2 separate regions of the Homo sapiens genome follow, and region 1 is linked to region 2. Evidence: fine-mapped expression QTL. A gene starts in region 2. The other region holds a variant in brackets. All regions are shown on one strand. Distances are from middle to middle.

Region 1 (5,378 bases), 34 kb before region 2:
CGAGACCACCCTGGCCAACACGGTGAAATCCTGTCTCTACGAAAAATACAAAAACTAGCTAGGTGTGGTGGTGCATGCCTGTAATCCCAGCTACTTGGGAGGCTGAGGCAGGAGAATCCCTTGAACCTGGGAGGCAGAGATTGCAGTGAGCCGAGATCGTGCCACTGTACTCCTCCCTGGCAACAGAGCAAGACTGCGTCTCAAAGAGATACACTCATTCATTCCCTCAATATTTTCTGAGGCTTTTATGGTTAAGGCCTTATAACATACTTTACAATTGTATTGCACTTTAAGGCTGATATTTATTATCTCATTTCATGTTTAACAATAATATAAGATAGAACAAGTTGTAATCATGAACCCTGTTCTCTAAACAAGGAAACTGAGGCTTTAGAAAGAGGAAGACATCTACCCAAAGTGTATATGTTAACAACAAAACCAACACTAGAATAAGTCTCCTACTCCTAGTCCCTAGTCTCTAACTCTCCTCACAAGCTAATATTCCCCCACAGCACCTCATCTTCCCACTCCTTCAGCCACACATACATATAACTATGCTACTTCCCCCATTACTGCCTGTTAGAGGCAATAGTAAAAAGACAACTAAATGAAAACTTTTGAGTTTTTTTAAATATCTGCCCCAGATCCTTAAAAGAAAATCTGTCAATCACATGCTTTTGCTTACATGTTCATGAATGTGAAAACTCAAATCCATAATCCAAGCTAAAAAAATCTAAATAAATAAATAAATACTAATTTACATATAATAGAATATATAATTAAATATCAATTAATAATTTAATATAAATAAATAAATCTTTTTAAAAATCCAGAAAACAATTGGAGAGTGGAGGTGGGAGAGGTAAGAGAAAGAAAACACAGCAAAATGAGAGAATGTATTTTTGTCCTAAATACTAATGTTTATAAGGAAGAGAAACATACTCTATTTTGTTATAAATTTTCCATCTGTTTGATTAAAGCCCTGTAATCTTCAAAGACTAGCAAGTTCCTGGTGCATGGTAGATATTCAATAAATGTTTGCTTAATTAATGAATGAATGGTTTTTCATGATATATCACGAGCTCCTTGAGGACAAAGTCTTCATCTATAAATTTCTGTACCCATTTCAAAGTTGGCAGTCAATAATGCATTGAATTAAATAATTCAACTGGTAGGTACGGAGAGCTCTATGCAGGAAGGTCGTGTTGGGTATTCTGTGTTTTTGCTGATTCTGTATTTGTCTATCTGGCATCCATAGATCACAAGGCCAAACTAATGGCCAAAGTTGTTTAAACCTCCCGAGAGCCAAAGTCCATTCTCTGAACCACCTCCTTTATCTAACTCTCACACATCAAGCCAACATTTCACCTGCCCTAAATCAACCCAGGACCAGGTACCAGACAACTAAGGACAGCCCTAAAGCCCACTGGAATTATTCAAATTGGCCAATTCTAACCTGTTTCTCCTGCCCTGCCTTGCCTTTCCCAAGGAAAACATAGTAAGAGCTCTGGACCATGCTTTCCCCTCGCTCCTTCTGCCTCCTGACTGAAACTGGTGCTTCCCTCTGCGGCCCTGTGTGGTGCAGAATGCCCTCTTGTCTTGGGAAATGTAAGTAATAAACTTTCCTTTCAATGACATTGACCACTCTGTGTAGTCACTGAGTCACCTTTATAAATTACATCAATGGCCACAAATCAACTGGATACTACCACTACTATTGCCACCAGACACAAAGAACTAGAACCCAACCCAACTTAATCCTAAATGGTGGCTTACATCACTGCTTACAAACTCTCACCTTCCGTATTAGATAGCAAACTCCTTTAAAAACTTCTACCACTCAACAAATTCAATGCTATGTATACAGCAGTTACTTGATAAGCTGAATTTTACACAGACAAGTAGATAATTAGTTGACATTTTTGGCCTGAATCTTAGCGATTGTTTAATTATTCCCTCTGTCCAAAAAAACAAAAGAGGGGGAGGGGTGATTAAACTCTAATACCGCACAGTTTGACAACTTCCTATAAAGTTAAATATAAACTTAAAATATGACCCAGCAATCACAACCTAGTTATTGATCCAAGTTAACTGAAAACCAGGTTCACATAAAAACCTGTACACAAATATTTATAGCAGCTTTGTGTATAAGCATCCAAAACTGGAAGCAACAACGTCTTTTGACAGGTGACTGAATAAAGAAACTGTGGTATACCATAGAATGGACGATTAGTCAACAACAAAAAGCAACAAGCCATTGATTCTTGCAACAATATGAGTGAATCTTAAATACATTTTGCTAGGTGAAAGACTACAAATTATATGATTCCACTCACGTGACATTTTGGAAAAGGCAAAACTACAGGGATGAAAAACAGATTACTAGTTATCAGGGTTTGCAGTGGAAGGTGTTTGACTACAGGGAGATGCACAGGGAAACTTTTAGGATAACGGAATTATTCTATGTGTTACTAGGGTGGAACATACGTTACTCTATGCATTTGTTAAAATCCGTAGAACTGTACCTTACAAAGAGTGAACTTTAAGGTATGTACGTTTTTTCAAGAGAACCAGTATGTCAGGGAATCCCAGGATAGGATGTAGACTGTGACAAATGAACCTAACATATTATAAATGTATGACATAAACTCACTGAAGGGGGTAGAGGAAAAAAAAAAGCTGGCCTATATAACCTTAGAAAATAGTGTTTTGAACAAGAAATGGGGAAAGGATTCCCTATTTAATAAACGGTGCTGGAAAAACTGGCTAGCCATATGTAGAAAGCTGAAACTGGATCCCTTCCTTACACCTTATACAAAAATTAATTCAAGATGGATTAAAGACTTAAACGTTAGACCTAAAACCATAAAAACCCTAAAACAAAACCTAGGCAATACCATTCAGGACATAGGCATGGGCAAGGACTTCATGTCTAAAACACCAAAAGCAACGGCAACAAAAGCCAAAATTGACAAATGGGATCTAATTAAACTAAAGAGCTTCTGCACAGCAAAAGAAACTACCATCAGAGTGAACAGGCAACCTACAGAATGGGAGAAAATTTTTGCAATCTACTCATCTGACAAAGGGCTAATATCCAGAATCTACAATGAACTCAAACAAATTTACAAGAAAAAAACAAACAACCCCATCAAAAAGTGGGCGAAGGA[T/C]ATGAACAGACACTTCTCAAAAGAAGACATTTATGCAGCCAAAAAACACATGAAAAAATGCTCATCATCACTGGCCATCAGAAAAATGCAAATCAAAACCACAGTGAGATACCATCTCACACCAGTTAGAATGGCGATCATTAAAAAGTCAGGAAACAACAGGTGCTAGAGAGGATGTGGAGAAATAGGAACACTTTTACACTGTTGGTGGGACTGTAAACTAGTTCAACCCTTGTGGAAGTCAGTGTGGCGATTCCTCAGGGATCTTGAACTAGAAATACCATTAGACCCAGCAATCCCATTACTGGGTATATACCCAAAGGACTATAAATCATGCTGCTATAAAGACACATGCACACATATGTTTATTGTGGCACTATTCACAATAGCAAAGACTTGGAACCAACCCAAATGTCCAACAATGATAGACTGGATTAAGAAAATGTGGCACATATACACCATGGAATACTATGCAGCCATAAACGATGAGTTCATGTCCTTTGTAGGGACATGGATGAAGCTGGAAACCATCATTCTCAGCAAACTATCACAAGGACAAAAAACCAAACACCGCATGTTCTCACTCATAGGTGGGAATTGAACAATGAGAACACATGGACACAGGAAGGGGAACATCACACACCGGGGCCTGTTGTGGGGTGGGGGGAGGAGGAAGGGATAGCATTAGAAGATATACCTAATGTTAAATGACGAGTTAATGGGTGCAGCACACCAACATGGCACATGTTTACATATGTAACTAACCTGCACGTTGTGCACATGTACCCTAAAACTTAAAGTATAATAATAAAAAAAAAGAAAATAGTGTTTTGACTGACAACTATAGGCTAATGACAAAATAATCTGTACATAAACATGGAACTCTAATTGGTAAATCGTAGCTCATAGGAGTATAAGTTAACAAATCTGAACCTGCTTTACATGTGTAAGGGTTTGAACAAATAAGTAAACTCCCCATCTACCACGGTGGATGATGAGAGGCAGGTTTCTCATTGCCAGAGAGTGAAATGCAGATCTGCAAGGGGGAAAGGCTAGAATGAACTCTGCAGTACTGAGTTGGAGTCAAAGATACCAGTGCAAATCCACGTTTAGCTTAGCATATATACAGACTGATAGATACAGAAATAATTAGAAATATGTATATATACATGGGTTAGCATACATACTTTTATTTCCTAACTCTATTCACTGAGAGGGCCTACTAGCAGCATGCAACCCAATGCTCAGAACTTGGTTTCTCCAATAAAAAGAACTAGGGCTCTTTAGAAAAAGCTGATTCTAGAGCCGGGGCAAGGAAAATACAAGATGAACCTGGAACATCTTCTAATTCTAAAAAAGTAGGGAGGTGCTCAAGTAGCAAAAGGATGAGGACATGTCAAAGTGACACAGAAGTTAACCTGGAAGAGGCCCCAGAAGCCAAAGCTAGAACAATTTCAGGAAGAAAATAAATAGCATGGTATTGTATTATAACCCAAGGTATAAAATAAATACAAGTCCATAGAGATACAAATTAACAACTCAATAAATAAACAAATAGGTAGAAGGGGAAAATCTTCCTTTGCAGAAGAATTCCAGATAATATAAGTAGATAATACCCTCTGTAGGAGGTAAAGCTTAATCCTCACTCCTCCTCCCCCAAGCGTGGGCTGGACTTGGTGACCCATTGCCAAAGAATGCAGTATAGAAAGAGAAAAAAAATAGTAACTTTATAGTGAGAAACCTAGCAAACACTAACACAACCAAATGATCAAAATTAACATTATCTGTAATAAGTCATGTTAGTATATTCTTCCAATATGATATGAGGAAGGCACTTCACCTCTGTAGTAGTCTTCCCAAAAATCCATAACCCCAGTCTAATCATGAGAAAAACATCATACAAACCTAAATTGAGGGGTGTTCTACAAAATACCTCATCAGTATCCTCAAACCTACCAAGGTTATTAAAAAACAAGGGAAGTCTGAGAAACTGTCACACACCAGAAGAGACTAAGGAGACATAATGACAATGCAATGTAATACTCTTGACTGAATCCTGGAACAGAAAAAGGACATCAGTGTGAAAAGTGGTAAAATCCAAATAAAGTGTGGAATTTAGTTAATAGTAATGTACCAACATTGGTTTCTTAGTTCTGACAAATACACCATGGTGATATATTAACATTATGGGAAACCAGGTGAGGCATA
Region 2 (5,378 bases):
CCAAGAATATTAACAGTTGCTTGCTATTTGAAATGACTGAAGTGTGCTGAAATAATGCAGTCAGCAAAATGTCACTTATGGCTTACATATGGATCTGTTGCAGCCTGTAAAACATTGTCTCCATGAGGGACAGCCAAAATGAAGAGTTATGTGGGAGTAATAAAATATGATAACTAGGCCTCAACCTCAAGTACAAACCCAGCTGCGCATGTACATACACATCCACGAGAAAGCCTGCTGATAATAAAAAGCAAAAAAAAACTCAATCATGTCCAGTGTGTGTGCACTTCGCCGCAGAACTGGTCGGGGAACTGTCCTTTCAGCACCACAGCAAGAAACCTGAATACAAGCCTAAACACAGGCAACCCAAAGCTGGACCAGGAGAAAAAATTCTTAAGGGTCCTACAAGGAAAGCAACAGCAACCGTATGGTTGTTTTTAAGGATGCAGTATTCCACTTGATTATCCTTTATTAATTTAAAACAAAATCCTCCAAAGATTTTGATAAAAGTTGACAAAACCCCAAATGAAAACCAAAGCTGCTCAAACTGAAGCCAAGAAACCAATAACTGATCTGCACCATTATGAACTGCTTTGCAATACCCACCACCAGCTCTACTCAGAAACACAACACATTTACATATACCCTGAATCAGATGTTCAGAGAACACGGAACATGCTTGCAGCCCTCTCCAGGGAGGACCTCAATTTCTAGGACAGGGAATGCGTGCTGAACACCAAAGGATCACTACCCACAACCACCACCTCACCAACCAGCAACCAAATCCTCTTTCAGGGAGAAATGAAGGCCTTATGGGTCATGAGCTCCAAAGAAAAATGCTGCAGTATTTCAAGAACCAGGTTACATGTAATGTGCTATAAAGCTTTCAGCATTTTAAGTCTGATTCCCCCAAGATTCCTACCAGGATGGTACCGTGTGGTAATGTTATCCAGCCATTTGCATCACAAATCAAAAAAAAAATTTTTTTTGAGAAAAGAATAAAAGCACAACATCCCCCCCTCCACATCTTCTAATGCACGTGGAGAAAAGAGAAGTGCAGAGGGATTTTGAGACAGTGAAAAACCTACCACACCCGAAATCTCCATTGGAAAGCTAAAACATCCCCCAGCCCTAACACACTGCTACCTCTCTCTAAAGGCTCTCCAGGTTCAAACTTGGGAAAACAGTTATAAAAAGCACTCTCCCCCTTTACCCCCATGGCCCCCACCCACACTTCCTGCTTCCATCCCTGACTCTCTGGTGCCCACTGTGCATAAAAAGCAGTTTTCCTTGTGTGGCAGAGCTTGCTCCATGCTAATTATTTCTCCCTCCCCCTGACTTTAGCCAGATGCAATCCAAAGTTTCTTCTACCCTCCCCCCAAACAGATGACATCCATTTATTATGAACGCTGATGCAGAACCTTGGAATCTCCGGACATAAAATGTATTCCCTCATGCTTCAAAAACTGCAGTGTAAGTGAGGAAGAGGGCATAGGGTGGAGTAGTCGGATGGAATGCATGGTTTGAAGAATCCTATTTATCGGGCTGAAAAATGGTTCCCATTCCATCCCAACTCGAAGCTGGGGCCCCTGAAAGGGTCTGACAGTCCTGGCTAACCCCTGGAAAGTTAGCCAAGTCTCCACCGGTGGTTGTTGCTGGCAATGGAGGGGATGGAGCTGAGCTCTCAGGAGAAACTGCAGAGGCTTTGCGGTGCCCCAAGGTACCAAGTGAGAACTAGAGAGGAGGGTCCAAGCCCACGGAGCTGGGCAAACAGTCCTGTACCCCAACGCTAACAAGAAGCCAAGGGTGCTGCTGCTGATGGTAAGGTGGGGGAGGGAGAGGAGAGGAACAAGCTCTGCATCGGGTGGCGTGGGGGTGGGGGGTGGGGGTGGGGGTGGGATGGGGGAAGGGGATATTCTCAAAGTGATGTGCTTCCAAATGCAGGAATCCTCGCCTGCCGAGGAAGGTCCCGGGAGCCCCCATCACAACTCCAGAGCACCCTGTTGGGAGGGGGACGAACGCATCCGAGTAAAGGACAGAGGGAGTCGGGAGTGCTGGCTGCGGGAAGAACCCAGGAGCCCTTGGCTTCTGCAGTTTTTAGCAGTGTGAAGCCGGCTGAGGGAGAAGGATGCAGTAAGACATGGGGGAGGGGGAGGGCTGAGGGGCTGCTGTAGGAAGATCCCGACAGCGCTGCCCTTCCCAGTGCAAGCCGGCTAGGGGCCCCAACTCTGCCCGGCACTGAGGGAGGGATGGAGGGCTGCACCGCGGAAGGGGCACCAAGGACGGGCCGTGTCCCTCACTGTAGCCGAGACGGAGAAAGCAGGGTGTCCGGGGTGGGGACTGGTGGTCCTCAGTTCTCTTAAGAGACCCCCGGTACACACAGTAGAAGGAAGCAAGAGTTCCAAACACCTGTCCAAAACAAGGAGAGCAGAGCCCCAGCTCCACGGCCCCTGGAGCCCCGCCGCGCACTCTGCGGCAAAGCCCCTGACTGGAGATGGGCGAGCCCCGCTCAAGGGTCCCGAGGCGAGAAGGGAAACCCGGAGGGCAGGAAGCAGCGCTAGGGCGGGGGCTCTGGGGCGACTTACGGCAGCGGCGGCGGCGAGGGAGGCAGCGGCGGCCCTAACGCGGGGCCCGGGAGGCGCGGCCGGACTGCAAAGGCGCCGAGGATGCGGCGGGCGGGACTGCGGTGGGCGCCATCTTGGAGCGCTCCCCGCGCCCGCCCCCCGCACCGCCCGAGTCCTTGCATAATTGATGACTCGCGCCCGCCGCGCGCCACCGCGCGCGCGCCCCTACTGCCGGGCCCCCCGCCCGCCCCGCCCCCGCGCCTACCCCTCCGCGCGCGCCCCCTGCCCGGGCCGGCCCCGGCCCGCAAGCGCCGCTGCCACCGCCCCCGCCCCCTCCCTGCGCTTCGCGCCCGCCCGCCCGCGCCCCCGCGGCCCACCTACCCCTGCAGGGCGCGCCCGCTCGCCCGCTCGCCTGCAGCGCGCCGCCCGCCCGCAGGCTCTCAGACTCGCGTCTCCGCGCCGCCGGGAGCGGATCAGGGGCAAGAGGGAACAGGGCGCCGGCAGGGGGCGCCGCGCGGGAGCGCCAGCGAGCGTCCCCGGGCCCGCCTCCACTACGCCCCCGCCGAGCCGCCGGGAGGGGCCGCGGGCTGAGGACCGGGACCCGCCGCGAGACGCTGGCTGGCTGCTCGCCAGCGCCGGGCGGCGAGACCCGAAAGCTGTCGTGGTGACCCGCGTGCTCTGTGGCCCGCGTCAGTGCCAAGTCTTACCTTTCTCCTGCCCCCCAACAGTGCCGCGCTCAGTGAAGTTTCTGACATCCAAAAGCGCAGGGAACTCAATTTACAGGATCTTGGGCCCACTGAAAAAACGAGAAGTCAATCAGCGGCAGGTGGAGGCTCGTGTTTCAGCCCACAGGGACCTGCTGCCAGGAGCGGGGAGGCGCTGCCTCCCTGACAGCCCCCAGGCCACCTCAGTCTTTCCGATCCTCAGTCTGTCCATCTGTAAAGTAGGCATGAGCATTTCGACCGCTCACTCCACCCTCGCGAGGATCTAGGTAATGAGTGCCAGAGCTCTTGGCACTTTACTGTGTCTCTCCTCTACTTAATATTTTCCTACCACCAATCACAAGAGGGAAAAAGGGTGTAACAACCTCTCCAAACCTCAGTGTTCTCGTCTGTAAAAGGAAACAGTCACAGTAGCAACCTTATAAACTTCTTGTTTGTACTAACGGGGAGCATGCACTTCACACATTGCTAACACAGCCAGGCACATGGTATGCTTATCACATAATGTGCCCTCTACAATACATTTAAAATTAGCTTTACTGGGGTATATTTGCGTGTGTTTAGATTGTACAATTTTGAGTTATGTGTGCACTCATGAAACCATCACCACCAAGGTAATGAACACACCCATCACCTCCAAAAATTTCTCCGTGTGCTTCTTTGTAATCACTCCCTGCATCGCTCGCCCCCACACACCCTCTCCAGGCAACCACTGATCTTCTTTCTATTACTGTACATTGGTTTGCATTTTCCGGAATTTTAAATAAATGGAATCATACAGTACAAACTCTCTTTTTTGTATGGCTTCTTCCACTCGGCATAATCGTTTTGAGATTATTCAGTCGTTGCCTATCAAGAGTTCTTTTTTACTGCTTAGTAGTATTCTTTATGGGGATACACCACAATGTGTTTATCCAGTCACCTGTTGATGACATTTAGGTTATTTCCAATGTTTGTCCGTTACGAACAAAGCTGTTATGAGCTTTCGTGTGCAGGTCTTTGTATGGATATATATGCTTTCGTTTCTCGTGGGTATAAATATCTAGGAATGGAATAACTGAGTCCTGTCTTAGGTGTATATTTAACATATTAAGAAAGGGCCAAACTGCCTTCCAAAGTGGTTGTGCCTTTCCATTCCTACTAGCAGCACATGAATTTCAGTTGTTCTACATCCTCACCAACATTTGGAGTGATCAGTCTTTTTAATTTTAGCCATTTGAATAGATGTGTAGTTTTATCTCGCTGTGGGTCTGTCGTCCATTTCACTAGTGACTAAAGATGTTGAACATCTTTTCATGGACTTGTCATCTGTAAATCCTCCTGGCGAAGTGTCTCTTCAAGTCTTTAGCCTATTTAAAAATTGGTGGGGTTTTTTCTTGTTAATTGAGTTTTACGAGTTGTTTATATATCCTGGCTGGGCTCAGTGACGCATGCCTGGTGTCCCAGCTACTCTGGACACTGAGCAGGAATAATTGCTTAAACCTAGGATTTCAAGTCCAGCATGGACAACACAGGAGACTCTGATTCTAAAATTTTTTTAAAAAAATTAAAGAGTTGTTTATATATTGTGGATACAAATCTTCTGTCAGACATGTGATTGGCAAATATTGTTTCCCAGTTTAGGCTTATCTTTTTATTCTTTTTACTCTCTTAACAGTGTTTTTCCAAAAGCAGAGGTTCTTCAGCCAGTTGTCCTGGTGCACACTTGTAGTCCCAGCTACTCGGGAGGCTCGGGCAAGAGGATCTCCTGAGGCCAGAAGTTGGAGGCTATAATGTGTTATAATTGGGCCTGTGAATAGCTGCTGCACTCAAGCCTGGCCAACATAGCCAGAACCTGTCTCTTAAAAAAAAAAAAATTAGACCTTCTTAATTTTTATGAAGTTCAGTTTATTATTTTTTCTTCTATGAATCATGCTTTTAATGTCATGTCTAATAAGTTTTTGCCCAACACAAGGCCCCAAATATTTTATCCTATGTTTCCTTCTGGAAATTTTATAGTTCTAGAGTTTACATTTAGGTTTATAATCCATTTTGAATTGATTTTTGTATGTGGTATGAAATGTAGTTTGAAGTTCTTTTGTTGTTTTGTTGC

What was found. PIP is the estimated chance that this variant, and not a neighbour inherited with it, causes the effect.
Region 1: its variant is the best candidate, but not a certain one, in a credible set for the expression of SCN8A in blood mononuclear cells (TOPMed, PIP 0.61).

The regions. Positions count from the first base shown.
Region 1 is chr12:51,622,225-51,627,602 of GRCh38, reverse strand. The region is part of intron 1 of SCN8A (sodium voltage-gated channel alpha subunit 8); the gene reads right to left. Among named protein-coding and RNA genes, the nearest start is that of SCN8A, 34 kb to the right of the region's middle. The variant T/C (reference allele first, on the strand shown) is at 3,171.
Region 2 is chr12:51,588,567-51,593,944 of GRCh38, reverse strand. SCN8A (sodium voltage-gated channel alpha subunit 8) reads right to left here and starts at 2,712. Exons shown (of 27, transcript NM_001330260.2): 1 at 2,586-2,712. RefSeq lists a silencer at 2,960-3,209.